Linked DNA regions of Homo sapiens: regions 1, 2, 3, 5, 6 and 7 are each reported to be linked to region 4. Evidence: microRNA targets listed by miRTarBase, many of them from high-throughput screens and not tested one by one. Region 4 holds a microRNA gene; each other region holds the end of a gene's coding sequence.
The links. The annotated mature microRNA hsa-miR-7-5p reads UGGAAGACUAGUGAUUUUGUUGUU and lies in region 4 at 1,651-1,674, shown strand. An mRNA with a match to its seed (bases 2 to 7 or 8) in the 3' UTR can be bound and repressed. Matches are read on the target gene's strand: a 7mer-m8 pairs with bases 2 to 8, a 7mer-A1 pairs with bases 2 to 7 and ends in A, and an 8mer does both.

Region 1: the mRNA of TMEM98 is a reported target of hsa-miR-7-5p. The part of its 3' UTR that is shown has no 7-base or 8-base seed match.
Region 2: the mRNA of SLFN11 is a reported target of hsa-miR-7-5p. Seed matches in the 3' UTR shown: 7mer-A1 at 3,620-3,626 and 7mer-A1 at 3,497-3,503.
Region 3: miRTarBase lists OR1A1 as a target of hsa-miR-7-5p. The part of its 3' UTR that is shown has no 7-base or 8-base seed match.
Region 5: the mRNA of GPR20 is a reported target of hsa-miR-7-5p. The part of its 3' UTR that is shown has no 7-base or 8-base seed match.
Region 6: miRTarBase lists DCAF12 as a target of hsa-miR-7-5p. Seed matches in the 3' UTR shown: 7mer-m8 at 3,035-3,041 and 7mer-A1 at 2,749-2,755.
Region 7: miRTarBase lists CAGE1 as a target of hsa-miR-7-5p. The part of its 3' UTR that is shown has no 7-base or 8-base seed match.

The regions. Positions count from the first base shown.
Region 1 is chr17:32,939,997-32,944,488 of GRCh38, forward strand. TMEM98 (transmembrane protein 98) reads left to right here. Exons shown (of 8, transcript NM_015544.3): 8 at 790-4,319. The coding sequence ends at 997. Among named protein-coding and RNA genes, the nearest start is that of TMEM98, 14 kb to the left of the region's middle.
Region 2 is chr17:35,348,524-35,353,015 of GRCh38, forward strand. SLFN11 (schlafen family member 11) reads right to left here. Exons shown (of 7, transcript NM_001376007.1): 7 at 1,782-4,492. The coding sequence ends at 3,833. Among named protein-coding and RNA genes, the nearest start is that of SLFN11, 23 kb to the right of the region's middle.
Region 3 is chr17:3,215,764-3,220,255 of GRCh38, reverse strand. It overlaps OR1A1 (olfactory receptor family 1 subfamily A member 1), which reads right to left. Exons shown (of 4, transcript NM_014565.3): 4 at 1,360-4,492. The coding sequence ends at 3,706. Among named protein-coding and RNA genes, the nearest start is that of OR1A1, 10 kb to the right of the region's middle.
Region 4 is chr19:4,769,050-4,773,541 of GRCh38, forward strand. MIR7-3 (microRNA 7-3) reads left to right here and starts at 1,621; the gene lies at 1,621-1,730. MIR7-3HG (MIR7-3 host gene) reads left to right here and starts at 56. Exons shown (of 3, transcript NR_027148.1): 1 at 56-302; 2 at 581-708; 3 at 3,115-3,507. RefSeq lists a silencer at 488-782.
Region 5 is chr8:141,353,343-141,357,834 of GRCh38, forward strand. It overlaps GPR20 (G protein-coupled receptor 20), which reads right to left. Exons shown (of 2, transcript NM_005293.3): 2 at 3,128-4,492. The coding sequence ends at 3,505. Among named protein-coding and RNA genes, the nearest start is that of GPR20, 12 kb to the right of the region's middle. RefSeq lists enhancers at 3,141-3,762, 3,763-4,384.
Region 6 is chr9:34,084,579-34,089,070 of GRCh38, forward strand. DCAF12 (DDB1 and CUL4 associated factor 12) reads right to left here. Exons shown (of 9, transcript NM_015397.4): 9 at 1,809-3,930. The coding sequence ends at 3,772. Among named protein-coding and RNA genes, the nearest start is that of UBAP2, 38 kb to the left of the region's middle.
Region 7 is chr6:7,322,921-7,327,412 of GRCh38, reverse strand. It overlaps CAGE1 (cancer antigen 1), which reads left to right. Exons shown (of 14, transcript NM_001170692.2): 14 at 514-754. The coding sequence ends at 555. Among named protein-coding and RNA genes, the nearest start is that of SSR1, 12 kb to the right of the region's middle. RefSeq lists a silencer at 2,707-2,816.

The DNA.
Region 1 (4,492 bases), not on the chromosome of region 4:
TAGCCCTATGAAATTGTTATGTTCCTATACCAGATGCAACCCATTTAAGAAATATAGATTCTTTCGTGCCTTGGATTTATATGACTGTGTCATACACATGTAACAGTTGCCAGATCGGCAGTGGGTCACAGCGCTTCAGCTTTGGTTTCTCTGCCCCACTCCTACTGCTGCCGAGCTTTGTCCGTGGGTTAATAATCTGTAATGTATTCTCAAATGCATCATGGTACTAACCATATAAAAGGTATTCTACAGTGAATCTTTCAGCACTGAAAAATCTACTCCTCACTTTGGTTTTCAGTTACATTTTTTTTTTTGAGTTGGATAAACCAGCCCTGGGCCTTACCAATTTGTAATCAATAAGGAATGTTTAAGTGAGGGTGTGTCTGTCCTATGTTTCAGTGGGCAGCGGTTGGGGAATATGCTCATCTGATTGACTATATCTGAACTGTTTCACAAAGCGCTCTTTGGGGAGATGTTAATAGGTGTGCTGCAGAAAATGGCTTCCACAGTCTTAAATAAGCTTGTGAGAGACAGCCTGTTATATTCTCCTTGGAGCTTTACCAGGTACATCTCAGAAGGCTCTGAGGCAGGCTTCAGTTAACCATGTTTAACCCAGCCATCTCCAAATTTATTTGAGCATGGAGCCAACTTTAAATTGCATACCTACCAACATCCTAGGGAAGGGTGTGCAGTTTGGGGAATACTAGTCAAAAAGTCTATCTATTTGGGCTTTTGTGCAAAGTCCCTCATTTCCTAGGAAACCTGACCCTATTTTCTTTTTTTCCCTAGGACGACTGCCCTGCTCCTGTCTGTCAGTCACCTGGTGCTGGTGACAAGGAATGCCTGCCATCTGACGGGAGGCCTGGACTGGATTGACCAGTCTCTGTCGGCTGCTGAGGAGCATTTGGAAGTCCTTCGAGAAGCAGCCCTAGCTTCTGAGCCAGATAAAGGCCTCCCAGGCCCTGAAGGCTTCCTGCAGGAGCAGTCTGCAATTTAGTGCCTACAGGCCAGCAGCTAGCCATGAAGGCCCCTGCCGCCATCCCTGGATGGCTCAGCTTAGCCTTCTACTTTTTCCTATAGAGTTAGTTGTTCTCCACGGCTGGAGAGTTCAGCTGTGTGTGCATAGTAAAGCAGGAGATCCCCGTCAGTTTATGCCTCTTTTGCAGTTGCAAACTGTGGCTGGTGAGTGGCAGTCTAATACTACAGTTAGGGGAGATGCCATTCACTCTCTGCAAGAGGAGTATTGAAAACTGGTGGACTGTCAGCTTTATTTAGCTCACCTAGTGTTTTCAAGAAAATTGAGCCACCGTCTAAGAAATCAAGAGGTTTCACATTAAAATTAGAATTTCTGGCCTCTCTCGATCGGTCAGAATGTGTGGCAATTCTGATCTGCATTTTCAGAAGAGGACAATCAATTGAAACTAAGTAGGGGTTTCTTCTTTTGGCAAGACTTGTACTCTCTCACCTGGCCTGTTTCATTTATTTGTATTATCTGCCTGGTCCCTGAGGCGTCTGGGTCTCTCCTCTCCCTTGCAGGTTTGGGTTTGAAGCTGAGGAACTACAAAGTTGATGATTTCTTTTTTATCTTTATGCCTGCAATTTTACCTAGCTACCACTAGGTGGATAGTAAATTTATACTTATGTTTCCCTCAAGTGTGTAGTTATTGAGTCAAATTCATATGCATGGTGTATTGTGGGACATACTTAGATGGAAGGAGAGAGCCTAAGAATCCTGAGGATGATTTCTGTGTATGCCTCAAAATGAGATATTTAGGCTGGGCGCGGTGGCTCACACCTGTAATCCTCGCACTTTGGGAGGCTAAGGTGGGTGGATTGCTTGAGCCCAGGAGTTTGAGACCAGCCTGGGCAACATGGTGAAACCTCATCTCTACACAAACTACAAAAATTAGCTGGGCATGGTGACACGTGCGGCTGCTTGGTAGGCTGAGGTGGGAGGATCGCTTGAGCCCAGGAGGTGAAGGTTGCAGTGAGCCCTGATTGTGCCACTGCATTCCAGCCTGGGCGACAGAGTGAGACCATGTCTCCAAAACATACATATATATAAAATATATTTAAAGACCTCTTGGAGTTCAGGCAGAAGTGAAGATAGCACTATGAAGTAGTTTCCACATTAACAATAGCAATGACTTGAACGATGTGTTCCCCCTTTCTTCTGATATTAATATCTGTTCATTTTGCAAACATTGAAAGATTATGAAAGCTATGACCCAGAATCACAATTATATAATTTGGATACATACCCAAATGGCATAATTTCTGTCATAAGCCTGTAGGAAAAGCTTGAATTCTTCACTTCTCAGATTCTCAGAGCCAGCTTGCTCTTGGGAGAGGGGCCTGGTATAGGGGCTGCCCAGGTTCGTAGCCTATGCTGTCAAGCATGTTTGGAGTTGCACATCTGTTCCCATGTCATTTTCTCTGTCTAACTGAAGTCAGAAAATTCCTCAGCTGGATTCTGGGGAACCAGGAACCCATATTCCCAAATCCAAGATTGGGACCTGGTTTGTCTTTCCATTTGGGCACATTTCATTCTTTCCAGGAAAACAGGCCACTTCCAACCTGCACAATGTACACCAAACCACAGAACCACAGCTGGGATATGGAGTCAGGAGAGGGAAGCTGGAGCTCAACTCTCATGGACTAAAGGATGGATTCTGGATGGGCTCCAGGGGACACCTTATTGGATTGGTGGCTTCCATCAACTCTTAAAAACGTTAAGTGGTGAACTTTCCCGTCCTGTCAAGCTGTGAATGGGGAATGTATACAAAGTCACTTTGACTTTTCTATTTGAGGCCTCCACAGTAAACATCCAGAGTCATCCTATTTTTGTCTTTTTACCTCCCTTTCAGAACCTGTTTTCGTAATTAGACTGGAAAGCAATTCATGCTAAGTTTGCAATGGCTGCCACAGTTGTAAGTGTCCCCTGCATTTTAACCTGCACTAGAGCCCTAAGCCACAGAGAAGCAGTTCTGAATTGGTATCTCAAATACCATCCACCTGGTGTGGGTCTGCAGGGTGGAGAGCTTTCCCAGCACCCCTGAAGCAATGCCCAATGTCGATTACCTTCTCTGAGTCCTGGCAAGTCCTGGCACATTGGCTTTCTGGATCCCTTAGATGCTGCCCTTTCTGTTGTGAGGAGAGGTTGCCGAAGATATTGGAGGTGTCTGCTGGACTGTAGGATTTCTGATCCCACTGCTGTGTAGTTTTTTTTTCTAGTGCTGGACAAGTAAGAAGCCTCTGGATAAATTTGGTGTTGGTGGCTGATGGTTGAAGTGGAAGCAGTCTTTGGGGTAGGAGGCAATGCCACTCCTCTAGGCCCTTCGGGAGTTGGCTGAAGTTACTTCCTCCCTTGGAAGGGGCTGGTTAGTGAGTGCCAGGGATCTCAGGACTGTCTCTGTGCCAGGTGTGGTTTCCCAGGCAACAGACACATTCCTAAGTGCCTAGTTCTCTAGCGTCTGTATACATGGTAGTAGAGCCTTCCTTCCATGTCTCTCTTCCCTCTGGCCTGGAATAGGAGCATTAGACTCAAATTCTGATGAAAAAGAAATTACTTGGAGATAGAGATTCAATGTGAAGAGAACAAGATATTTGAAGTCAGAATTAGGTTTGAATTTGGGCTCAGTGACTTACAGTGTGAGCTTGGTCAAGTTCTTAACATTCTGGTCCTTAGCATTCTCATCTGTATGGTCAAGGCTATTGTCATTGGGTTGGTATGTCAACAAGCAAAACGGTATGTGTGAGCTGCCCAATTGTGGGCCTGGTTCTGATTAGCCAATGTTAACACCCTTCTCTCCACAGCTTCCCATTCTCTGATGCCGCTGACCCAGATGGCGTCACCTCAGTTACCATGGCTTGGTCCAAGCAGTGACTTCTGTTCATGGGCTCTGGAATTGAGTGGCCAAAAATCTGGAATCCCTACAGTAGGGAGAGTAGCCTTGTCCCTGCCCCACTACAAGTCTGTTCATATGAAGACATACAAAGCCGTCGCCTCTAATCAGTGTTCAAAGGGTCGATTGTGCAACTCACATTCCTCCAGAGAAATTCCCCCAGCTTGTGAGATCTCCAAGAGGGAACACGTATTCCTGGCATCCAACTTCCCCTGGTGCTCCCCCTGACCTGCCTCATTCCAGGAGTTCCCTCTCCAGAGACCCTGTGTGCCCACACGAGCAGACTTTTAGAAAATGGCCTACAGTTCAAAGGCCCTGCATTGCTTTATGGCCTTGGAAATGTGGGGAAAGTGTCAGATGAAGAATTTCTATCCTCCTCACCTCCTCCCTGTCTCCAATAAATGCATACCAAGAGCTTTCTGTGGAAGAGGGTTCGTGCTAGATGCTGGAGCTATGAAACAAAAGGCACAATCCCTGCCCTTAAGGAGCGATAGAGAAATGAGCAACTGCTGGAGCCATGACTGTAGCCAGTGCTGTGATGGAGGGGACCACAAGAGGGACTGTGGGCACACAGAGAAGGGACAGGG
Region 2 (4,492 bases), not on the chromosome of region 4:
TATAAGTCCATTCTTACAAGTAAATGAAGAATTCCAAATAATTTATATAGATAAATTATTTTGTAGGATATATAGACATTGGCCCCCTCAAGAAAGTGGAGCTTCAATCCTCACCCTTTGAGTGTGAGCTGCACTTAGCAACATAGGAGGAAGGAAAAGTAACTTCACTGTAGAGAAACCTGGCAAACACTTCCTCTGTCAGCTGGTCAAGGTTGATATCATGAGTGATAAGGCATGTTGATAGCATATACCCTTGATGTGATGTGATGAGAATACCTCTTCATTCCTGTGGTCTTCCTCTTGAAAACCTATAACCCCAGTCTGAGAAAAAAATCAGACAAACCCAAACTGAAGGACATTTTATTTGTAGATACCTGACCAGTACTCCTCAGAACTGTCCAGGTCATCAAAAATAAAGCATCACAGGTCAGAGGAGTGTAAGGAAACATGACCACTAAATGTAGTATGGTGTCCTGGATGGGATCCTGGAGTAGGCAAAGACATTAGAGAAAAACTAGAGAATCCAGGCCGGGTGCAGTGGTTCATGCCTGTAATCCCAGCACTTTGGGAGGCCGAGGAGGGCGGATCACAAGGTCAGGAGATCGAGACCATCCTGGCTAATACGGTGAAACCCGGTCTCTACTAAAAAAATACAAAAAATTAGCCAGGTGTGGTGACGGGCGCCTGTAGTCCCAGCTACTCGGGAGGCTGAGGCAGGAGAATGGCGTGAACCCCGGAGGCAGAGCTTGCAGTGAGCCGAGATCATGCCACTGCACTCCAGCCTGGGCGACAGAGCAAGACTCCGTCTCAAAAAAAAAAAAAAAAAAAAAAAAAAAACTGGAGAATCCAAATAAAATGTGGGGTTTAGTTAATAGTCATGTACTAAGTAAGGTTGGTTCCTTAGTTGTGATGAATGCATCACAACAATACAGTAATAAAACAGGGAAATAGCCACTGCAATGGCTCACACTTGTAATCCCAGCACTGTAGGAAGCCCACGCAGGAGGAATGCTTGAGCCTGGGAGTTTGAGACCAGCCTGGGCAACATAATAAGACCCCGTCCTCTACAAAATTTTTTTAAAAAAATAGCCAGGTGTAGTGGCATGCACCTGCAGTTCCAGCTTCTCAGCTAGTTGGGGTGAGAGGATCACTGGAGTCCAGGAGTTAAAGGCTGCAGTGAGCTGTGATCACCCAACTGTACTCCAACCTGGGTGAGAGAGCAAGACCTTGTCAAAATAAAATAAAATAAAATAAAATAAAATAAAATAAAATAAAATAAAATAAAATAAAGAGGAAACTAAATGAAGGGGACACAGGAACTTTCTGTACTATCTTTGTAACTTTTTCTGTAATTCTATAACTACTCTAAAATAAAAAGTTAATTTAAAATATAAAAACATTTTGTTTCATTTTATAATGGCTGGGTAGATTTTCAGATCTTTAGTGAAGTAGGTCCCAGATGTCTAGAGGCAGATTGCAGAGATGGGCAGGCACCCATCCAAACCCAACTGAGTCTAGTGCACTGGCTCATGCCTATAATCCCAGCAATTTCGGAGGCTGAGGCAGGAGGATCACTTGAGCCCAGGAGTTCGAGGCTATAGTGAGCTATGATTGCACTACTGCATTCCAACCTGGGCAACATAGTGAGATCTTGTCTCTTAAAAAAAAAATTGAAAGTTAATGTTGCTTAATCTTTTACTGGCTCGTTTTGGCCCTCTCACAGAGTCACTGGCCTCAGTCTTCTCCTTTTCCCCCATTTAAGCACTTATTTTACAAGACCATTTTTTTCAGTTTAATGAGACACAAACTCTCAACTTTTTATTTAAAACAGAAATGCAGTAGTAAGCTAAACCTTTTGCCATTCATAGGGAAACAAATATCAGTAATCCTCTTTGTTCTAAACAAAAATTCATAATTATTTATACATTTTAAAATATTATATTGTTTCAAATATTGTTAGTGGGGCAATAAATCATAAAGAGATACAACCAGTCGAAATTAGACTTTTAAAGAATTACTCTCAAAGACATTGCAACAACTCCAAAGTCCAGGGATCTTATAAGACTAATTTATTAGTAACAACATTTACAAAGATAGCTTTTTAATGCTGAGTTGTATCTGATTTAATGCAGTCAGAAAGAAAAAAGAAACATTTATCTCATTTTGCTGATCTGTCAGATTTTGCTTAAGTTAGGAGAGCCTGCAATTTCAAGCCCAGATAACTGGAATTCCATGAATAAACACAGAAAGACAGGAGAAAGGCAAGGAAGTTCAAAAATCACAGTCTGGGGGGAAATCAGTAGAGTAAGATTACCAATAAGTGAAATATTGGTCATATGATTTCTTAGTTTCCATTAGTTATGCAAATATTTTACTGTTAATATTTAGATTAGTGTTTTAGAACGTTTTGTAGAGACTGAAAAGCAAATAAATAATTGCATTAGCATTGTTAAGTATCAGTGTTTTCTGTTTGACAAATAATCGTACAGCTGTGTTCTCAGGCTGCAATAACAAAACACCAGAGACTGAGAAGCTGAAACAACAGAAATTTGTTTCTCACAGTCTGGAGGCTGGAAGTCCAAGACAGAGTCCAAGACTCTCGCCAGCAGCGAGAGTTTGATTGTGAGGCTTCTCCTCTTGGCTTGTAGGTGGCTGCCATCTCTCTGTGTGCTCCCATGCCCTCTTGTTTGCATGCACAGGGAGGGAGGGAACAAGCTCTCTGGGGTCTCTCCCTATAAGGACACCAACCTTAGCAGATCAGAGCCCCACCATGACTTCATGTAACCTTAATTACTTCCTTAGCAGCCCCAGCTCCACAGTGCAGGTTGGGGCTTCAACACGGGAATTTGGGGGTGAAGGGTGGGACACAAACATTCAGTCCATAACAATGGCCCACCAAACCATGAAAGTAAATAGAAAAAAAATCACAGTTCAAGAATAACATAAAACTTAACTAGGTGTGTTATAGAGCAATGCATAGAACTAAGCTGAGAAGTTAAAACATAAACTCATTGATTTTTAAAGACAATCTTTCCCAAGTCTGGTTCACCTTAGGGCTGATACACACCTTCAGAACCAGATTTTGGTCTCTAATATCATCTTCCACTGAAAGCCAGGGCAAACAGGTTTATGTTCATTTCATCTTGGCCTATAATTTCTCCTTAAAGTGACCATTAATATTCACTATCACAATTAAGGCTTGGTCTGGGCCATTCTGAGAACAAGCTCTGGAGACCACAATTTTAAAGGATTAAATAATCATAACGGTATTCTTTGTCCTGACAAAATTATTAATCTGACAGTGACTGAATTATCTTCGGACTCTCCCAAGCCCTAAATGAATACAGCAAAGATAAATGTCAAGAATTCAGGAAACAATTGCTTCTGCTACGGCCAGTAAGCTCCTAACAGACCATGCTTCTGCAGAAAACGATTCTGGACAAATTTTTAAAAGCAACAAACTGCATGAAGTCACTTAAAAAAAGAAGCCCAGCCTTGGAAGAAAGAAAGGCCACAGGCTGAGTTTCTTATTTTTATGGCTTTTACCCAAAATGCAAGACACAGATCGGCATTGTGCAGGACAGCTAAAGTTCCTTTAGAAAACCACCATCTTTCTGGCTGGAAGAGTCAGGGGTCAGAATGGGGGGCAGCCACCGCTGCTGAAAGGGTTGGGGAAGGAACCCCTGAAAGGAGAGCCAGAAATGGGGGAGCTCCAAACTCTTTGTGTCAGCTCCGTCCAAATCTCTGACTTGTGAACTAAAAAGAAAGGTTTCTACCATCAGCAGACTGTCACCCATAGACATTTACATAGCATTTTGATTTGGAGTTCTTCCTAATGGCCACCCCACGGAAAAATATACAGGTGTTGTTTTGCCCTGGAAGCCAGACAGATCAGAACATTGGGTAAGATAGCTGGGTCAGCTGTCCTTGGATGGATCCCAAACACTATGCTCCTTTCCAGGCCTGAGAATCGCCGAACACTGTCCAACACAATGTGATCACCCAACATATCACATGCATCACTGAGCTGCACCACCCTTTTCTTCCTCATTGCTTTCAAGAGCTCATACTTATAGTGCTCCACTTCTTTTGCGGTGCTGACAAGCACAGCAACATCCTTTGGAGAATAGCCCCTATCAAAGAAGCGCCTGCACGTGTCTGCCACACAGGTCATTATTTGCTCCACAGTCAAGTATTTCTTAATTCGTAAGGTTCCCTGAACACCCTGGGACCATTCGGCTTCAGGAAATACCTCGAGGCACCCAGTGGGGATGTTAAATGAAGGATTACTTCTAATTACTTGCATTTCTTTTTGTAAGTACTTGGCTATTGGATCTGCATTGCGAACTATTCTGGTGAGCTCTTCTCTTGGATATTGGTCTGAGAGAGGAGGGAGGCCACTGCAATCCAAGTGGCTGGTCTGAAAGTAATCCAGAAAGATCCAGAGAATTCCTGGGCCACCCTTTGCTCTCCGAGTGATGCTTTTTGCCTT
Region 3 (4,492 bases), not on the chromosome of region 4:
AGATGTGACTTCTTCATCTGGAAGGAGGGCTATTGCCATCTGTGCCACAGGACTATTTTGAAAATTCAGAGACAATAATATATGTGATAGACGAAATGCACACGCCCACATGCATATGTACATTTCATATGTAATGAAATGGCTACTTTCTCTGAACCTACGTGGCACATTAACTTCTTTTGTAGCATTTACCACTTTTCCTTGTTTCATTTTTTTCAAAGCAAGTATTTGAGTGCTCAGTAGTGCAGGACAATACACTGTGCTATGTCCCTTGACTGATATAAAAGGGAGAGAGACACATAGTTTGACTTGGAGGACCATCAAGTCTTGACTGTACAAGTGTCTTCCTTCCCCAGCTGGAATCCTCATTCTCCATCCTGGCTCCCTTTCTTGAAGTTTAGTCATTCTGCAAGTCTCTTTGTTGAAAACTTGACTTATCAGCTCCCCTCTGATCCATGTTCTGTTAATTTTGCTCCAAAGCTTTGTATCTTCATTCTACTATTTAATCCAATACATCCACAAGAGTCACTGGAACACTAAAAACACACCCAAAATGGAACTTTTTTTTTTTTTCTTAAATTGCTGTTTTGTTCACTACTGTCATTAAGGGCATCTTTTTCCTTTTAGTGACTCGAACTCAAAATCTTCTAGACATCTTATTGCTATCATAATAATTCATTCTATGGTTTCTATTTCCACACTACGTTTGCATCTGGATCGTAGATGCAAAGAAGGATACCTTCTTATATAGTATCTATCCTCTTTGGTACTTATTATTTCACCATGGGCAATAAACACCTAATTCCATTTGATCTTACTGAGTTTATCCGTAACAGCAAAATTAGTCTTGTATTCATTTTGTATCTTCACTCTCTCTTCCCTAGATTGCTTTAAGAGATGTGTAATTAAACTCCTGATCTCATCACTCTCCCCTCCTCCCTTACTGCTCTCTTATCTATCCATTCTTGATTAAAGAGAAGCTCTCTTCATTGTTTCATTCAGAGCTTTTATCTATGTATCTATGTAACTATCAATCAATCATAATTTCATGAACACCCTGGACTCACCACTTAATCTGAATATTAGGACTGTAGTAATAACCTACATCTAACTATGTGATAACCCTAGTTCTATTCCCCCATTTCTCCTTTTGAATTTTCTCTTATCCTGAATCCTGTGGTCATTCTTTCTTTGCTTTTGTTTTTGTTTATTATTATTATTATTTATTAGTGACTGTCTTAGTAAGATTTTAGGAGGAGTTGTATTATCTTTAGATATAGTCTAAACTATGAAGTAAGCACAGAAATATTTCCCCAGGTCAGTTTCTTTTTTTTATTATTATACTTTTAATTCTGGGGTACATGTGCAGAACATGCAGGTTTGTTACATAGGTATACACGTGCCATGGTGGTTTGCTGCATCCATCAGCCTGACATCTGCATTAGGTATTTCTCCTAATGCTATCCCTCCTCTTGCCCCCAACCCGCTGACAGGCCCTGGTGTGTGATGTGCCCTTCCTTGTGTCCATGTGTTCTCATTGTTTAACTCACACTTATGAGTGAGAACGTGCAGTGTTTGGTTTTCTTTTCTTGTGTTAGTTTGCTGAGAATGATGGTTTCCAGCTTGATCCATGTCCCTGCAAAGGACATGAACTCATCCTTTTTTATGACTGCGTAGTATTCCATGGTGTATATGTGCCACATTTTCTTCATCCAGTCTATCATTGATGGGCATTTGGGTTGGTTCCAAGTCTTTGCTACTGTGAACAGTGCCACAATAAATATACTTGTGCATGTGTCTTTATAGTAGAATGATTTATAATCCTTTAGGTATATACCCAGTAATGGGATCACTGGATCAAATGGTATTTGTGGTTCTAGATCCTTGAGGAGTCACCACACTGTCTTCCATGATAGTTGAACTAATTTACACTCCCACCAACAGTGTAAAAACCTTCCTATTTCTCCACATCCTCTCCAGCATATGTTGTTTCCTTACTTTTTAATGATCGCCATTCCAACTGGCATGAGATGGTGTCTCATTGTGGTTTTGATTTGCATTTCTCTAACGACCAGTGATGTTGAGCTTTTTTTCATATGTTTATTGGCTGCATAAATGTCTTCTTTTGAGAAGTGTCTGTTCATATCCTTCGCCCACTTTTTCATGGGGTGGTTTTTTTCCTGTAAATTTAAGTTCTTTGTAGATTCTAGATATTAGCCCTTTGTCAGATGGATAGATGGCAAAAATTTTCTCCCATTCTGTAGGTTGCCTGTTCACTCTGATGATAGTTTCTTTTGCTGTGCAGAAGCTCTTTAGTTTAATTAGATCCCATTTGTCAATTTTGGCTTTTGTTGCCATTGCTTTTGGTGTTTTAAACATGAAGTTTGCCCATGCCTATGTCCTGAATGGTATTGCCTACGTTTTCTTCTAAGGTTTTTATGGTTTTAGGTCTTACGTTTAAGCCTTTAATCCATCTTGAGTTAATTTTTGTATAAGATGTAAGAAAGGGGTCCAGTTTCATTTTTCTGCATATGGCTAGCCAGTTTTCCCAACACCATTTATTAAATAGGGAATCCTTTCCCCATTTCTTGTTTTTGTCAGGTTTGTCAAAGATCAGATGGTTGTAGATGTGTGGTGTTATTTGTGAGGTCTCTGTTCTGTTCCACTGGGCTACATGTCTGTTTTGGTACCAGTACCATGCTGTTTTGGTTACTGTAGCCTTGTAGTATAGTTTGAAGTCAAGTAGCATGATGCCTGTAGCTTTGTTCTTTTTGCTTATGATTGTCTTGGATATACGGGCTCTTTTTTAGTTCCATACGAAATTTAAAGAAGTGTTTTCTAATTCTGTGAAGAATGTCAATGGTAGTTTGATGGGAATAGCATTGAATCTATAAATTACTTTGGGCAGTATGGCCATTTTCATGATATTGATTCTTTGTATAAAAGAGGATGGAATGTTTTTCCATTTGTTTTTGTCCTCTCTTATTTCCTTGAGCAGTGGGTTTTAGTTTTCCTTGAAGAGTTCCTTCATGTCCCTTGTAAGCTGTATTCCTAGGTATTTTATTCCCTTTGTAGCATTTGTGAATGGGAGTTTCTTGAAAGGTTTAAAGGATGAGAAAATAATGTCTGGTTTGATTATCCCTAATTATAATATTACGTTTCAGATATTAATATCTTATTCATTCCACTTCCACCAGTATTTATTGGATGCACTTTATCTGACCAAGATTGGGAAGGTACAGTGATGTGTAAAAACAACTCCTGCCCTCAGAGGCTTGCAAGCCTAATAAGGGTGATTAAACTTAACAGTCAAATAAAAATGGACACATGAATAGTGATTTATAATCTTGGAAGCATGAGCTATTGTAATCAACACACCATGTGACCCATGTAGGGCACTTATTATTCCTAACATGTAGATGTGAAAGCTGAGGCTCAGATCTTCCCAACTTGACTCTGCTCATCAGGACATATGCCCTATATCCCTGTGCTGCCACTCTGCCAAAAAGAGCAGCAATGAGTTGAAAGTGGTAATTTCAATAATCACTTATTATTAACTTATTAAAATGTTATAAGAGTTCTGAGATTAGGAATTTCAGGCTAGAAAGATCAGAGACTGCCTCTCGTAGGAGGATGACATCAGAACTGGATTTCCAATATACCGTAACTGGTGACTACGGTATCCAATGTAGGCCCTCACATTGGTTACGAGGAGATTCTCTTGTTGAAGAGTTTCCGCAGGGCAGCCTTCATGTCCCGATTTCTCAGACTGTAGATGAAAGGATTTAACATTGGGGTCACTGCCGTGTACATTACAGTGATCACTGCGTCTTTTAGGCTATAATTGGTCAAAGGGCGGAAATACGTGCCCATGACTGTACCATAATACAAAGAGACAACCGTGAGGTGGGAACCACAGGTGGAGAAGGCCTTGAGCACGCCCTTGGTGGAAGGAACCTGGAAGACTGTGGAGAAGACTCGAATATAGGAGACAATGATGCATAGTAATGGCACAGAGAAAATGCCAACCCCTAGGTACATCATCTTCACATGAAAGTGGATGTCAGAACAGGATAACTTCAGCAAGGGGGTAATGTCACAGTAGAAGTTGGCCACTTCCTGGTTGCCACAGAAGGACAGACTAGCTGTGAGCAGAGTGTGGGGGAGGGCATTGGCATTTCCAATCACCCAAGACCCAGCAATAAGCCAGATACAAGACCGTGGACTCATAATTGTTGTGTAGTGAAGTGGGCGGCTGATGGCCACAGCTCGATCATATGCCATTGCAGCCAAAATATAGCTGTCTGTGTTACCCAAGGCTATCATGAAATACATCTGCGTTAGGCATCCCCCAAAAGAGATGGATTTGCTGCCCAAGAGATGGTTGGCCAGCATCTTAGGGATGGTTACCGATGAGAAGAAGATGTCAACCAAGGAGAGGTTGGCAAGGAGAAAATACATGGGGTTGTGAAGGCGAACATCAGAGCAAATG
Region 4 (4,492 bases):
CAGTTGGGGAAGCCCCTCCCAGGATTCCTGGCGCTCCGCCTTCCCTGAAGCCTATAAAAGCGCAGGTCCCCGCCTCGGCAGCCACGGGACACCTGCATCTGCCAACAAGACTGGAAGCAGGTGAGGCACACAGAGGGGGAGGCCCGCAGCTGCGTGGGAGGAGGGGTGGTCTGAGGGACGTGGGATGCCGGGAATGAGGCTGGTTTGCAGGTTGGCGCATGGACATTTTCCCAGAAAGGGACAGAGACGGCGAAGTTTGACGGTCTGGAAAGCAGAGACCAGCAGGGCTGACTGCTTGGGAGGTAAGTTCTGGGGACATGGTACAGGGTGAGGAGCAGGTATCAGTGCTAGTTGCGACCCCTCTGTGTCTCCCCCCCGCCACCCCATTGCCATTCTGAAGCTCCCCAGGAAGAAGCTAGGAGGGGAAATAAATTGAGTGGGGGTGGGGTTTCCCAAGAATCGGAGGAACCGAGAACGAAGAGGGGTGGGGGAACGGGGAAAGAGAGAGGAAAATCAAGTTTTCTTCAGCACGAGGGACAGCTCTCCACCGACCGAAGGAGGAGAATGCTATTTATTTCAGCACCAAATATCCGGACAGCGCCTCTCGGGAGGTCCGAGAAGAGAACCGCGATCTGTTTCAGCACCGGGGCTCAGGACAGTTCCCAGCGGGCTCCGTTTCGTCTCCAGAACCCTGGACAGCTCCTCCAGGTAACGGGAGAGCCCTTTGACCCTGATTTTGCAGGGGGAGGACGAGAGAGGGTGGTCTGAGGTGCCTGGCATTTCTGGAGACCTGCACCTCATGTAATGGATTTTTAAACAAAGTATTTTCCAGATAAGCACACACAGAAGTCTGCAATTTTCTTTTTTTTTCGAGACGGAGTCTTGCTCTGTCGCCCAGGCTGGAGTGCAGTGGCACGATCTCGGCTCACTGCAACCTCTGCCTCCTGGGTTCAAGGGATTCTCCTGCCTCAGCCTCCCGAGTATCTGGGATTACAGGCACATGCCACCACTCCCGGCTAATTTTTGTATTCTTAGTAGAGACGGGGTTTCACCATGTTGGCCAGGCTGGTCTCAAACTCTTGACCTCTTCATCCGTCCACCTCAGCCTCCCAAAGTGCTAGGATTACAGGCGTGAGTCACTGCGCCTGGCCCAAGTCCGGAATTTTCAACAGGTAAGATACCTCACTGGGGTAACAGCTGCCTGCTAAGATGACATTATGGTGTCTCTTCCAGACTTCGGTGAGAAACCTTGTGCCAAGCATTTTACATACATCATATCATGCCATCTTCAACCCTAGGACATGGGTGTTACTGTGCCCATGTGACATTTGGGGAACCCAAGGCCCTGAGAAAGGCAGAAAAATAACCCACGCAGGGACTCTCAGCCCACAAGTGAAGCTGTAAGTCAACCCCACCAGTCCAACTCCAAATCCCATGTCTCTGACGTGCCTGGGTGGGAGGTGGGCCCTTGGAGATCAGACCCTGCTTCTCTCCAGGAGAACCGGGAATGGAAAACAGGGAGGCAGCACAGAGGCAGGAAACTCAGGTGTCATAGCTTGGCTCAGGTGAGAAGGAGGAGCTGGGCAGGGGTCTCAGACATGGGGCAGAGGGTGGTGAAGAAGATTAGAGTGGCTGTGGTCTAGTGCTGTGTGGAAGACTAGTGATTTTGTTGTTCTGATGTACTACGACAACAAGTCACAGCCGGCCTCATAGCGCAGACTCCCTTCGACCTTCGCCTTCAATGGGCTGGCCAGTGGGGGAGAACCGGGGAGGTCGGGGAAGAATCGCTTCCACTCGGAGTGGGGGGGCTGGCTCACTCCAGGCGATACAGGCACAGGCAAAGGAGGGAAGCAAACAAGGACATACATCCTGTGCTCATACAGCCATGCACCATGTATGGGGTTTGTCACATCACTCGTACGCCCCCACAAGCCTGGAGATAGAACATACCTGACTCTAAACCCAAGACCTCTAACCACCTTATGGCGCTTTCCTGGGAGACCCAATGAGGGAATGACATTTAAAGCCCTCCCTAGACCAGAGTTCTCAGGGTACTTTTCTATTAAAAAAAAAATTATTATTTTTTTGGCCGGGTGGCTCACGCCTGTCATCCCAGCACTTTGGGAGGCCAAGGCAGGTGGACCACTTGAGGCCAGGAGTTCAAGACCAGCCTGGACAACATGGTGAAACTCCATTTCTCCTAAAAATACAAAAATTAGCTGGGCGTTGTGGCACACACCTGTAGTCCCAGCTACTCGGGAGGCTGAGGCATGGGAATCCCTTGAACCCAGGAGGCAGAGGCTGCATGACCCAAGATTGCACCACTGCACTCCAGCCTGGGCAACAGAGAGAGATTCTGTCTCAAAAAACATTTTTTTTTTCTTTTTTGTAAAGACATGGTCTCCTGCCTCAGCCTCTCAAAGTGCCAAGATTACAGGTGTGAGCCACCGAACCCAGCCTAAGGATACTTTTCAATAAAAGTTCCAGAAGTGGGCTGGGTGTGGGAGCTCATACCTGTAATCCTAACATTTTGGGAGGATGAGATGGGAGGATTGCTTGAGTACAGGAGTTTGAGACCAGCCTGGGCAATATAGTGAGACCCCGTGAGTTGACACATGCCTGTAGTCCCAACTACTTAGGAGGTGGGAGGAACACTTGAGCCTGGGAGATCAAGGCTGCAGTGAGCCATGACTGCACCACTGCACTCCAGACTGGGCAACAGAACAACACCCTGTTTCAAAAAAAAAGTTTCAGAAAAGATTCCTTTCCTGTCTGCTACCCATCAGTGTCATGGGCCAATCATAGGACAAGTGTGAACTTGTGCCCAGTGGTGACTTATGACATCATAAAGGCTCACCACCTTTGCCAGACATGGTGGCTCACACTTGTAATCCCAGCACTTTGGGAGGCCAAGGTGGGAGGATAGCTTGAGCTCAGGAGTTCGAGACCAGCCTGGGCAACATAGCAAGACCTCATCTCAGTAAAAAATAATAAATAAATAAATAAATATATAAGACTCACTCCCAATTCTCTGCAACACCCTAATCAAGTGAAAAACTGCACATGGTTACCTGTTCTCCAGCCTCAGGGCTTTTGCCTCTGCTGTTCCTGCAGCTTGGAATGCACTCCCTCCACCTCCAACCAGAGCTCCCCACAACTGACCCTGCCTTCTTCTGCAAGCTCCATTTCATCAAGGGAAACGATCCTTATTGCCTCACCATTTCCCACGTGAAGTCTGTATTGACATTCTCATAGACCTGGGATATTGTGTCTGCAGCACATAGTCCAATTATTTTCATGTTATCTACTGACAGGTCTATTTGTCTCCCTGTTACACTGTGAGCTCCGTGAGGGCAGAAACAATGTTAGTATTTTCACTGCTGTGTCCCCAGCGCCTGGTCCGGGGCCCGGCACACAGCAGGCATATAATAAGCATGTGTTGAATCAATAAAGGCATCAAAGAATAAACCAATACATCAATCAATAAATGAATGAATGGCCTCAGCACACACAGGAAGATCCTTCTTCTAGGTCTCCCCCAGAGAGATACTGGAGGGCAATGGTTGCTGGAGGTGTTTATTGGGGAAGCATAATTGAATTTGTGGACACTTAAGGGCCGGCCAGCCAACTCACAGCCCCAAGAGAGAGAGCCAGGCTCATTTAATTAGCAATTACAAGGCACTGATTCCTCATTAGCTCTGGCAACCCTCGTCTCCCTCCTCAGCCCCAGACAAATGAAATCTTTCTCTCTCTCCCAGGAGTACTGCCTCAGTGGGTCCATTAACAAGCAGAGAAAATGAGATTAGAAGACACCTAAATGCCAGAGGCACTTTATGAATGGGCTGAGCAGAGGGAGGTTCAATGTCTGGGTTAGGTCTAATTGTGGGAGGTTTCCTGGTCTATTTAGAATTGCCCCCTGGGAATGCAAGGTCTTTCAGAAAGGAAAAGGCACACAGATATTGCCTTCTGGGGTCCTCAATGGAGGAGGACATTCTGCTATGGGTGTCTCCCAGTCACCCCAAATTAATCATTTCAAAGTGAACACTCAATCTGCCCAGCCCCTAGCTTCCTCCCCTGACATGCCCATGAATATGACAGTCCCTCTACATGCCCAAGATCCTCCCCTCCTCATCCACTCCCCATGATCCCCAAGATGAGTCACTGTGCTCAAATCCATCCTCTCTCCTCCAGCCCTCTGCCTCCATGACCTCCCTCCAGCCCTCTGCCTCCATGACCTCCGCCTCCCTGCATGTCCGGATCTCCTCACTGTCTCCCCTCTGAGCATACACACACATACAGCCTGTTCATTCTCTACATGCAGCGAGGGGACTTTCCAGAACACACATCTGACCAAGTTCCACTCCTGCCTGTCACCCTTCCAAGAGCCCCACTGACTGCAGAATAACGTTCAAATATCCGGTTGGGCGTGGTGGCTCATGCCTGCAGTCCCAGCACTTTGGGAGGCCAAGGTGGGTGGATCACTTGCACAGGA
Region 5 (4,492 bases), not on the chromosome of region 4:
ATACCCTCCGCCAGCTCCATGTCCCCCACCAGCCCAGGACCAGAGTCGTGGGCAAGAATAGAATAAACAGCTTTAATTCCAGACGAGGACATCTCGTGAAGGAGATTGTTTACGTCGGATATAAATACACACACCATTTCACGTCACTTGGGCGTTTTGAAAATCTGGAAAGGGAGATCATGGGGAGGGGGCGCAAAGATCTCACGCCCTGTCCCCGTGAGTGTGGAGAGGGGGCACGCACAGATCTCACCTCTGCCCCTGTGGGACCAAGGACAGTCTTGGTCTGACTTTTGAAGCTCCTGGGCCTCGGTGCCCACAGAGGAGGCTGAAGTGGGAAGGAGCCGGCCGTCAGGAGAAGGAAGCAAGCAGCCGGGGGAGCTGTGGGGCCCAGTCCAGGGCATTGGGGTGACCCCCTTCCCCAGCCCCCTGCCCTCCAGCTGTAAGGCTGAGGAGAGGAGAAAGAGGAGTGGGGTGTGGAGAAACTGAGGCTTGCCTATCAAGGGTTCTGCATCGGGGGCTGGCAGGCAGTTCTCAGAGGTCTGAGGGTGGGCCCCAAGCCTGTGTCCCTGGCCACAGAAGACAGGCGGCCTGTCCTCTCCAGCATGAGTGGTAGTGGACGCACTTGCCGCTTCGGACAGGATGTCCTTCCCCTCCCGGCCTCTTACAGTCTGAGAAGCCTCTGAGGCCCGAGGAACCCAAGTTGAATGATTGGATTTCAGATGTGGGGACAAGGAGGGGACCTGGCTCACCTGCCTTAGAGACCCCTCCTCCTGAAGAAAGGGATTGTTCCAGAAAAATTGCAAGCCCTGCCTCTTCAAGCACAGCAATCCTCAAGTGTCAGCCATTCACTCTTTAGCGTGAATTAGAGTGACAACCAGGAATGGAGCCAGGCTGGGGGTCATTGATGGGGAGGCCAAAGGCCCGAGGGGCACGTAACACCGGTGGAGGAGGGGCAGGGAAGACTGGCGGGGAAGGGGCCGGGAAGACTGGTAGGGGAGGGGAGGGGCTGGGAAGCTGCATGGAAGGCCCTTCACTGGCCCCAGCGAGGCGGGCGCTTGGCCTTACCTTTGCCCAGGCCATTCCCCCTCATCTTAGCACTCCTTCCCGCTGGCCCCTGCCTCCTTGCAGCCCTGGGCTGGAGAGGTCTTCACAGTACAGTGCGGGACCAAGGGCAGAGGGGTGTCATACTCTAGGCCACGTGCAGAGCTTGCTTGAGGGGCGGGAGTGGGAGCCGGCAGGTAGTCTCTGGGGCTTGGGGCGCCCCCTAAGATGGAGCAAGAGGATCCACAGCTCCTGGAGGAATGGAGTCCAGAGTCCCTGGCCCTGGATGACTTGTGAGCGTGGGTGGAGGGGTCCCAGGTAAGCAAGGCCATTCAGGGACTGCTGGGCCACATGAGCCTGGAAGAAGCTCATGGCTTGGGCTGGGCAGGACACCTGAGCCCTGACCCCTCACTCCTCAGCTCTAGGCATGTGACCACGTGGGTGCCAGCTCGCAGCCCTGGGAATGATGGCTCGCTGGCTGTTGGTGCCTGCTTGCCTGAAAGTCGCCGTGAATGCTGCACCTGTGGTCAGCGGGGTTTTTCTGCATGCACAGCCCTGTCCCCCAGCCACGTCCTTTCCTGAACGCTGGGCCCCTCTGCCTTGTGGAACCCTGCATCCCTGGTAAGCCACGGCCCCTCTCTGAGCAGCACCCGAGAGCTGGGGGCTGGGGGAAGGTTCCAGAATTGTGCCTGGTGCCTGGTAAGTATCAAGAATGCTGGCGGCCATGGTGATACCCACTGCTTCTCGGGCATCCGGACCCAGGGAGGAAGTAACCCTGGCAGCACTCCCAGTTCCACCACCTTGCGGGGCACGCCTCTGACTCCTCTGGGCCGGTGCCCCCCACCCCAGCTGCTCCACATGGCCACAGCTGGGGTTGGTGAGGACAATACTGGCCTTGGATGACTCAGGCACTCACTCTATGACCTTGGCAAGCCCCTTTCTCCCTCTGAGCCTCAGTTTCTTCATTTGTAACATGGGGATATAAAGTCCAGGACCCTAAACTGGGGTCAGGAGACTCTGCCTCGAGCTGAATCGGGGAGCCCCGGCCTTTTCCTCCTCCTCCCCCTCCTGCTCCCAGCCACACAGGCCACGGTCACCCTGAGTGTGTAGGACTTCTCTGTAGCCAAAGGCCTGGCCTGAGGACCTGAGCCCATCTCGCCTGCTTCAGTGGCTATGGCCAGGTCTGATGGCAGGGCCTCAGAGCCGGAAGTGCCAGGGATGCCCCACACTCCTCTTCCTCACCACAGGCTCCCTTCCCCATTACCAGTCCTGAAAGGGCTGGGAGCTTGGACGCTCGGCAGAAGGCACGTGGGAGGAAATCCTGGAGTCCAGCTCTGAGGAGATGATCAGAGGCCCCAGCCAGAGAAAAGCTCCCTCCCTAGTGAAGGCATGGGGACTCATAGTGAGCTGGGCCAGAGCAGCTGGTCACGTCCTCTCTGCCCCCGGGGGGAGGAAAATGGCTGTTTGCATGGGGAGATGGTGGCCACAACCCGGCATGCCTGGGTTCACTGCTGCGTGACTTTGTTCTTGGTTTTCTTATCCATAGGATGGGGCTGTGAACACTGCCTCTACCTGGGGCAGCAGGTGAGCCATTCTGAGGCCATTCCTAGAGTGGGGGCTTTGGGATGATCGTGCACTCTCTGTGGAAGGAGGTGCAAGGGCACTGGAGGAGGTGGGGCTGGTTTTCATTCTGACCCTGCCATTTCCCAGCTGTGGCCCCTGTGTGTGTCACTTGACCCCTCCAGCACCAAGAAATGGATGAAAAGTAGCGTCTCCTTTGTGGGTTGTTGTGGGTTCAAGTGTCAACCTAGATATCACAGTGCTTGCTCACAGCAGAGCGGCCTGTGGGTGTCTGCCGTTTTATCGTGCAATTCACGGAGGCCTCAGGTGGGGGGGTCTTGCAGAGACATGCACCCCCCCCCACCTCCATTAATGCAACACGAATGCTCCCTGGCCTTTTCTTTCTGTCCTTGTCCTTCCTCCTGTGTGTGTGTTGGAGGGAGCATTGTTGTTGTTAGCTCTCTCGGGAATTCAGGTTGTTTCTTAACTCTCTTGGGAATTCCCAGCACCTAAATAATCTTTGTCCTTTTTTCTTTTTTCTTTTTCATCTCATCCTTCTAATCAATGGAATCCACTGTGCCCTTTTTTCTGAGGAACTCCTTCTGGAGACAAACTGGCCAAAGTGAGGAGCAGCTCCCGGCTACCCCTGTGAGTTTTCAGTGGACGTGCTATACCCCAGGAACAGCAAATCACCGGCATTCAGGCCACCACATCCCATCGGAGCCAGTGGCAGACATTGCTAATCAACCACAGCACAGTGGCCTTAGACGCTCAATGCGGTGCTCTGGGTAGCCATCACCAATCAATCGAGATGGAACCGATTGCCACCCCTGGCATGGTGGGTGTCCACGCTGGCATGCCCAGATGAGTCCTGACCTTCGGCCCCTGGCAGAGCCCTGCTGACTAAGCCTCGGGCCCATTAGCCAGGGCCTGGGTGAGGGCGTGAGGGCCGGCACTGAGGATGTGATGACGGCCTGAGCCCTTGGAGCTCCTGTGCATGCTGACCACGTCACCGCTGCTGGGCTCACGCTCTCCGTGCTGGCCGAAGAGGCCTCGGACGGTGGCCTGGAAGCCACTGGTGACGAAGCAGTAGACGATGGGGTCCATGCAGCTGTTGAGGCTGCTGAGGGTCACGGCCACGTGGTAGACCACGAGGCTCGTGTGGTGTGGCATGTCGGGCCACAGCGCCACGGCCACTTGGCGGGCGTGGAAGGGCGTGAAGCAGACGAGAAAGATGATGAGCACCGTGAGCAGGAGCTGCATGGCCCGCACGCGGCGCTGGCGACCCTGGTGGAGCAGACCCGGCCGCGACAGTGCACACATGATGCGGCCGGTAAACACGCTGATGACCAGCAGGGGCAGCAGGAACTCCAGGACAGTCAGCGCAAAGACACGGCAGCAGGGCCGGCTGCCTGTCACGCCCAGCACCGACAGGGTGACGGCACCGGCGGCCAGCCACACGAAGGCGCACACGGCCCTGGCACAGGCAGGCTGGCGGCAGCGGCGGGAGCCTTCGGGCCGCACGATGGCCAGGTAGCGGTCCACGCAGATGCAGGTGAGGAAGAGGATGGAGCAGTGCATGTTGAGGAAGTAACCGAGGACGTGCGGGAAGGCACAGCGCAGGCAGCCCCTGGCGCCGTAGTACACAGCGAAGCGCGTGGGCAGGGACAGCCCTACCAGTAGATCGGTCACCACCAGGTTGATGGTGTAGATGACTGAGGGTGTCTTGGCCCGGGTGCGGCAGCAGAAGACGTACAGCGCCAGCCCGTTGAGCACCAGCCCTGCCAGGAAGATGGCTCCGTGCACCGCCATCAGCGCCAGCCACAGGCCTGGGAAGGTGCCATGCAGCTCCTCGTCCAGCCGGGCAAACAGGTGGAACAGGGGCACCTCC
Region 6 (4,492 bases), not on the chromosome of region 4:
ATGAAGGGCTAAGAATTCAGTTCAGCTACAAAGCCTCCTGTAGAAGGACCCAAAGGATGAGGAGCCAGCAGACTATTTGGAATAAGGCATGTGGCATGCGGCCTGAGACAGAACAAGAAGTGCCTGAGAGAGAACAAGAAGTTCTTTCACAGAAGGGAGTAGGGACTGCTGGCTAAAAAGGGACCCCATAAAGCCCACAAAGCCCTTCTGTGATACATGCTTTGCTGGAAAGTCTGGCTGGAAAGTGGGAGCAAGGCCAAGATTCCATGGAGGCCAGAGGCCTAGACCAAGTCAACCCCACATTCCCTAAGTCACCTTTCTTTGTGAGCATGTTCTATGGAACAAGTCCCATAGTAAAATACCAAAAACCTAAGAGTTCAGTTGCACATGTGTACCTTTTTCCTTTTATAAATATTCATGACTCCTCCTATAGCTTATTAAATACATATATTCAGCCACCTTGTTCAACATAAATTCCTGTCCCCTTTGCCCCTCCCTCAGTTTGTGTTTCTGACTTCTGGCCAGAGGCTGTACTTCCCAGACTGTCAGAATGGCCACCCTGCAGACTGCAACCCTTTGAGAAATAAAGCTCTCCTTTCCAATTTTTAAAAATAAAAAAACCTGATGGTAAAGGAATGAAGCTGCTTTTGTTCTAATCTGCATTTCCCAAAAATGATTTGACAATATATTTTGTTTGGAGATGGAGTCTCACTCTGTTGCCCAGGCTGGAGTGTAGTGGCACAATCTCGGCTCACTGCAACCTCTGCCTCCCAGGTACAAGCAATTCTCCTGCCTCAGCCTCCCAATAGCTGGGATTACAGGCACCCGCCAACACGCCCAGCTAATTTTTGTATTTTTGGTAGAGATGGGGTTTCACCATGTTGGCTGGGCTGGTCTCAAACTCCTGACCTCAGGTGATCCACCCACCTGGGCCTCCCAAAGTGCTGGGATTACAGGTGTGAGCCACTGCACCCGGCTGACAATGAAGATTTTACAAATACCTTCTAAATTCATTTTGGGAAAGGCTAGTTTCAGCCCTTTCCAAATGTAACTCGTCTCCTCTGGGGAGCCCTCTCAAATTGCTTTAACTTACTCATCTCCCCTTCCTGTCTTGCAGCCTTTGATCATATAGGAACCCATGTGTCATGTTCTGAACCAGTCAGTCTCTAAGGCAGGTGCATAGAGCAGCTGTGTCCAGCTTGCCCTGGAAAGAACAAGTACCATGTGGCAGAAGAATAGGGACGGCCTTGCCAGGCTCTGCGGCCTAGCCCTGGTGGGTTTCCCAGAGATGACTGTGTGAGGAAGGGTGGTATGATTTGGCAGTTTCTCTCAGCTACAGCTCCAAATAGGCTCTAGAAGAGCATCACTCACTGTGGTCACTGTGTCTTCCCCTTACAAAGGGCAGTGAAGGTCTATGGTTCCAACTACAAAAAACAAAAATTAATATCCTATTCCCAGAGTACTATGCAAGCACTTTCAGCGTCATTCTCAGGGCACCATCCAAGCAGACAGGGCCTATTACCAACCCTTACTTATGTAACAGAAGTAACGTCACACTACTTCAGTACCCTGGGCATATCCACCCTCAGCTGGACCTCAGAGCAACTCATCTTGGGCTAGAGTTGGGGACCCAGAGCAAGCAGGTCTTAGTATTTGTGCCTGCACTTGACCTGCCTCTAACCTGGAGGTAATGGCTTGTGTTCCCCTTCTGCCACAAGCAATCCCAACAGCTCAAGCCAACCTTCCAACTAGTCATGTGGGGCCTTTTTGGCAGGCTCCTGGCTACACAATACTCACTCACACCATTGTGCACTGGAATAATTTTTATTTTTTTCCTTGGCAAAAAGTCAAGTGCTACATTTTTAAAAACAGAAAATCTCAAACAATCAAACGCATTACCCATTACAGAAGAGGGTCTAGCAATAGTACAAAACATCCTACTGAAGATTTTTTTTTTAAATATACAAGTCAGTTTAAAATGATAGAAGTTCTGTGAGAACTAAGAAATCTACAGCCTGTAGTTTAATAATAGAAAAAAAATTAAGACAATTAAAAGATCTATAGCATCCAGCATTTTGCTTAATTCCCTGTTTATAGCACCTATTTCTCTAGGTTCGAAGATGAGAATTCCAGAACCTGTGGTATGTGCTGTGTAACAAGTTAGGGTGGACTTGCTGTCTCTCCTCTCCAGTAGCCCCCCACCATTAAAAGGAGAATATATATATAATTTTTTTTCCAATTTCCCTTCTTACACCCAGAGAAGAGGGGGACAACTGGGAGAACAAGTTAAAAAACTGGGGTGCAGGAATAAATATGACTTTTCCTTTCCCCAAAATGGGATGTTGACAGAAAAGCAGAGTATGTGCTTAGAGGAACTGGTGGGTGGGAACAGCTGTTATCTTTGACATGATGTGTAAAAATCAGGGAACAAGTGGACATCACAGTCAGCTGCCTGCAAGTTTAAAAACCTCAGACTAAACAGACAGTTCAAGGGAGGAACAGACAAATTACTAATCACATTGATGCTGTCACATGCACAATGATGCTGACTGCAGGCCAGCCTGTCACCATCTCAGGGCTAAGCCAACAGAGTAGGAGGGGTGGCTTCAACCCCAAGTCCCACTGCAGTAAGAAAATGAATATTCCACACATGAAGCACTCACTACACACAGATAAACCCCCTGCTCACCCCCACCTTCTTAGACTTAACCCAATTTAGAAAATAATAGCAAAACCCACTGGGGAGATTGGAAGAATGGCAGAGAGGATTCTCCTCAAAGCCATGGGGGCTATGGATGTGAATCTTAGCAGACTTGAGACTCCCAGCTCCAGGCCCCTTAAAACCAGATCAGGTCTTGAGGGGAAGGAGAGAGAAGCTAGGATGGGGATTCAAGTCCCATGAAGCCTTTTGTAGCCTCTGGAGCTGCACCTGGATGGTGAGTCTGATGTTTTAGGGGTGTGGCTACTGGCTAAGCAGATGTGAGGGTGGGAAGGGGAAGTGACACCAACTTCCCACACGGGGGACACACAGGTGGGAAGACAGGTAGGGCTGGATCACTTTGCAGTCCTGGCATGGGAGGCCCCAGGAAGCCTACAATCTAACTAAAAAGATTTTCCCAGTGGTAATTTCTTTTCCTTTCTGTTTTTACTTCCTATTATCAGTGTTGTTAGACTTAAAAAACAAGATACAGACTAGTCCCAAAGCTGGACTCTGTGAATAAAGTTGTTTCTTTTATAAATATTTTAATTACAAGTAATCCTCACTCCAGGTAATTTCAGTGACACACAGTACCTACAGGCACACAAGATCACACACACACACGCAGACAAGATCTCTCTCTCACACACACACAGACACACACAGCTCCCAAACTTTCACAGAAAGTCTGAGAGCAACCATGTAATTATAAAGGAGCCCTACCTCTCAAGAGTGAAGTAAGGGTGAGCTATGTCATTTCAGCCTGAAGAAGCCAGAGACAGGAGAATGTGTGTCACTTAAAGAAAAATAGGGATTAGCAACAATGTTTGGTTGAAAAGCCAGAAATAATAAAAGATAGTAAAATTTTGATTACCAAAGGGGAAAACAAAAAGCAAAACAACTTTCAGATTTCTGTACAGAGCTTCTTCCTATTAAGTGCCTAAACTATAGGCAAACTTTGGTGTTCCCACTAAAACACAAGAGCCTCACACAATTAGGAAAAAAAAAATCAAAAGAAACAAGGAAACTGAGAATGGAAGTTAGTGTAAATCTCTGCATTTGGGGAGTTGTCATTAACTCCAGAGCCCAGCATAGTTTCCATGGAGCCCTGAAGGGAGGGGACCTCCTGCCACAAAGAGTTTCGTTCCAGACGAGTCGTAGCAGTGGGTGTAAACAGCATTGGGGAAGAAGTCAATGTCTGAAAAGTAATTCCTCCAGGTTTCATCATGATTCTACGGGAAGAGAAAGAGACTACAATTAGCACCTCTAGCCATGGGGCAGGAAAAGGGGGAGGAAGGGACAGGAATGCTTTCTGGTCTCCTTAAGGGAACAGGGTTCTACAGGTACAACCTCATGTCAGGAGATTGGCTGGTTGGTTCTCATGGGAATCAGGGCCTCATTTTTCCAACTAAACGTTAGAGAAGAACGGAGCAGCTGAAGAATTGCTATACAAGGCTCAGTTCTTCTCAGGAGACTTAGAACCAAAGTTCTGTTTTCCCTCCACCTGCTAGGCACAGGAGGAAGAACCAAACACTTGAATAATTCACTGGAGGTGGGGCGCAGTGGTTCATGGCTGTAATCCCAGAATTTTAGGAGGCCAAGGTGAGAGAATCACTTGAGCCCAGGAGTTTGAGACCAGCCTGGGCAACATGGCGAGACCCCATCTCTACTAAAAAAAAATAAATTAGCCGGGCACAGTGCATATGCCTGTGGTCCCAGCTACTTGGGAGGCTGAGGCAGGAGGACTGCTTGAGCCCAGGAGTTCAAGGCTACATACAGTAAGCTATGATCACA
Region 7 (4,492 bases), not on the chromosome of region 4:
ACAGCTGAGGCAGGTGGATCACTTGAGGTCAGGAGTTCGAGACCAGCCTGGACAACATGGCAAAACCCCATCTCTATCAAAAATATAATCCTAGCACTTTGGGAGGCTGAGGTGGACAGATCACTTGAGGTCAGGGGTTCGAGACTAGCCTGGCCATCATGGTGAAACCCCGTCTCTACTGAAAATACAAAAAATAGCCGGGCATGGTGTTGAGTGTCTATAATCCCAGCTACTTGGGAGGCAGAGGCAGGAGAATCGCTTGAACCTGGGAGGCAGAGCTTGCAGTGAGCCGAGATTGTACCACTGCACTGCAGCCTGGGTAACAGAGTGAGACTCTGTCTCAAAACAAACAAACAAAATATAGTGTTGGTATTATCTGTGGAATTCATCTATCTATAGGCTTACTTTGCACCCCTTTTCCATATGTAATAAAAAATTGGCTGTTTAGGGGTTCTGTCACTGAATGTTAGTCTTTCCCCAAAACTTACGAAACATTTTTCCTTTCATTTTTAGATGCCAGCTCTTTTTAAAGAAAATAGAAATGATTTAGATTAAACAAGCCTGAAGATTAAACAGTAATCATTTTTGTCAACCACTCCAGGAAGAGTCATTACTACATATGCTAGCCAAATCAATCCATGCAGATGATATATTAAAATCTGTATAAAGGGTAAAGTCTTACATTCCAAAGATGTGATTACTTTTCTTCTAATTTCTTCCTGTGAATAATCAAATATATTCTATTTAACATAAACAGAAGAATACAGTGGTTTTTTGACCAAATATTCTCACAGAATACCACTCCCATATTATCAGGCCTTTAATGATGCACAAAAATAGTCATGGATTTCACTTCAACTTTTTATTTCCTCTGCAGGACATCCTTTTTCTGTCCAGGCAGGCAGATTCTTCATAATACCAACCAAATTTTAAAAGACACCAACTCTGAAATCCTTTGGAATTATAACGCAGATAAAAGAGCCTGGGTGGCCAGGCGCGGTGGCTCATGCCTGTAATCCCAGCAGTTTGGGAGGCCGAGGCGGGTGGATCATGAGGTCAGGAGATCGAGACCATCCTGGCTAACATGGTGAAACCCCGTCTCTACTAAAAATACAAAAACTTAGCCAGGTGTGGTGGCGGGGGCACCTGTAGTCCCAGCTACTCGGGAGGCTGAGGCAGGAGAATGGTGTGAACCCGGGAGGCGGAGCTTGCAGTGAGCCCAGATCGTGCCACTGCACTCCAGCCTGGGCGACAGAGCAAGACTCTGTCTCAAATAAAATAAATAAATAAATAAAGAGCCTGGGCAACATAGGAAGAGCTCATCTCTACTAAAAATCAGAAACATTAGCCAGGTATGCTGGCAAGCACTTGTTGTCCCAGCTTACTGGGTGGCAGGGGAGGGGAGTGTGGTATAAGGGGGTGGGGATGGGAGGTTGCTAAGGCAGGAGGACGGCCTGAGCCCAGGAGGAGGCTGCAGTGAGCCATGATCATACACCGCACTCTAGCCTAGGCAACAGAGTGAAACCCTGTCTCAAAACAGAAAAACCCAGATGAAAGGAAAGGACTGGTCTCTTAAGACCTAACCCTTATAATTTCCACTTTCACATAGTTTTGAGGAATTAGTTCCGAATTTAAACAAAGGAGCCAGAGAGAGCTGATTTTGTGAGATGCACTAGAAAAATAAATGTATATAACATACATATTATCCTTTTGATAAATCCCAGAACCGGACTGGAGGTATAGCTATTGATCAAAATATGCCTTACGGCTGGGCACGGTGGCTCACGCCTGTAATCCCAGCACCTTGGGAGGTCGAGGCAGGTGGATCACTTGAGGTCAGGAGTTCGAGACCAGCCTGGCCAACATGTTGAAACCCTGTTTCTACTAAAAAAAAATACTAAAATTAGCCGGGCATGGTGGTGAGTGCCTGTAGTCCCAGCTACTCTGGAGGCTGAGGCCAGAGAATTGCTTGAACCTGGGAGGCAGAGACTGCAGTGAACTGAGATCTCACCACTGCACTCCAGCCTGGGCAACAGAGTGAGACCCTATCTCAAAAAAAAAAAAAATAAAAATTATATATATATATATATATATATAATATATACATATAAAAATATATATATATACACACACACACCCCTTAGGTGGAAGAGAAAAACTATTTTATCTCACTAAAGTTAGTTTTGCACTTAAATTAGATAAATACGAGATGAAAATATATGTAGAGTATATATCTGGTCCTGAAGGAAGTGGTGAATAAATAAAAGCTATTATTATTGTTGTCATGGAAAGGATGGGGTTATTAGTTAGCTGTGGGAGTGGAGAGAGAAGGGTCTAGGAAGCCTAGAAGAGCTCTGGATGAACGATGTAGAGAAGACCAGAGGGATAGCTGGTTTGTAAGGAGAGATACCCTGAGTTTGAGGTAGCTGTGAAGCATCTTGAGTGGAGGTATTTCATAAGCAGTTATGTATATGCTGAGAAGTGATCAGGGAAGAGACTGAAGATCAAGGAGAGAGAGGGATCATTGATGAAGCAAGATGTCAGAGGAGAAAAGAGAGACTAGGCTCCACAGCACAGCCTAGGGACAGGGACAGCTCTTCCTCTGAAATCAGGACAGGCATGTTCAGGGCAAACATAAGCCGTGGTGTAGTAAGTTGAGGGAGCTCATGGCCGGGAGTGTCACTCTCTTCTTGTAGTAGGGGGACGGAAGAGAGAAGTGAAAGTTGGAAATAGCCACAGCTTCTGCCTTCACAGAGTAAAGCTTTGGCTCTCACCACAGGAGATTGCATGGGGACGCAGTTTCCTCTCCCGTCTGTGGACTTACGCACTTTCCTCTTTTTTCCTCTGGTCTGTTTGGTCTCTTGTCCTCTTGACTCTGACCCATCGTATCTCCTTGAGGATTTGCTCCGGCAATCATTTGTATCTTCTCACACCTTCCTTTATAACTCTTCATTGAACCCTACCCTAGCCTTTAAAAAATATCCTTCCTGCAACCCTTTTCTTTTCTAAAGCTATCATGGTTCCTCTCTTTTCACTCCCCATGATAAACCTTCCAAAAATTGTTATTTGCAGTTTACAAGGCACTTTCACACACTATCCTAAGTAGGTTATCTGAACTCATAGTGTTTCTGATAGCTATTTTCCTGTATCTCCAGTCTTCATAACTCTGATTTTTGAAGGCTGTATAATATTTCATGGATATGTGTCATAATTCACTTAAATATATTTTATGGACAGGTTTTCAAATCCTTACTCCATAGTCAGTGTTCATTGCCTTCCATGCTCTGGGCCCAAACTTCTGTGCCTTTCCCCATATTGTTTCCTTTTTTGGGAATGCACTTTCCTTGCCCACTAAAAGCTCTCCTTTCTTCACATCCACCATGCAGTACCTCATATTTAAAACATTTGTACCCTTTGAGATCTAATTCAGATCTCACCCTCATCCTCATCTGAAATGCCTCTTTCGTCTGTTTTATCTGACTTTTTAATGGCACTTAGCACATTCTTCCCTAAATTATAATGCAGGAGAGATAGTACGGAATAGGAAAAAGAGCACTCGACAGGGAATCATAAGATTCAGATTCAAACCCTGGCTCCTCCATAACATCTGTTTTAGGAAACTAAGTTCATAGTCACTCTAGTTTAAGAAGAGTTACAGGACTGTGCTAATATTGTTTAAGGATATAAATGTTTTGTATATTATGTTCTATCTTTCAAAGATCGTTAACATTCGCCTATATAAATGCAACTCTTGGTAAGAGTGAGCCGCCTATATAATTCAAATCTAGCAGATCCAGTCTGAAAAAAACTGCAAAGGACTTTGGGAATTAGTATGAATTATGATTGCACCTTAGGGGTAAGGTGTGAAACTGGACAAAGATCATCCTGTATTTAGCAAGGTTAAATGTGCATGAAGAACAATTAGAATATATTTTTATAAAAGTCTAGTGGGCACAATATGGTAAAAATTCAACACTATAATACAGTGGAGGATTCTTATCATAAATGGGGCCAAGGGCCAAAGAAGGTGCTGGGAGAAGAGTTTTCAATTTTCAAAATTTCACAGCAAAGCTGCTCCACTGGGCATGTCTCCACTTGTTTGATGGGAGGATTTGATCCCCTAATGAAAGAGTGTTGGTAACTGGAAGAAGAGGCATAAAACCTATAGTACATAAATACACAAGTTATTACCACCAATAAATGTATTTTCTATACTCTTCCCTTTATTGAGGGATGATTTATGTGCTGTAAAATTCAACTATTTTAAGTATACAATTCAGTGATTTTTAGCAAATTTATATAGTCATGCAATAATCACCACAATCTAGTTTTACAATATTTCCATCACCCCATCCCCAAATTTCCTCCATCCTATTTGCAGTCCGTCACTGCTCCCACCCCATGTTTCCCAAGGATTCTGATCAATCTTCTTCCTGGGGAACATCCAAGAGAAGGGTTGGTAGGACAAACTGTGATCAACTGCTGTGTTTGA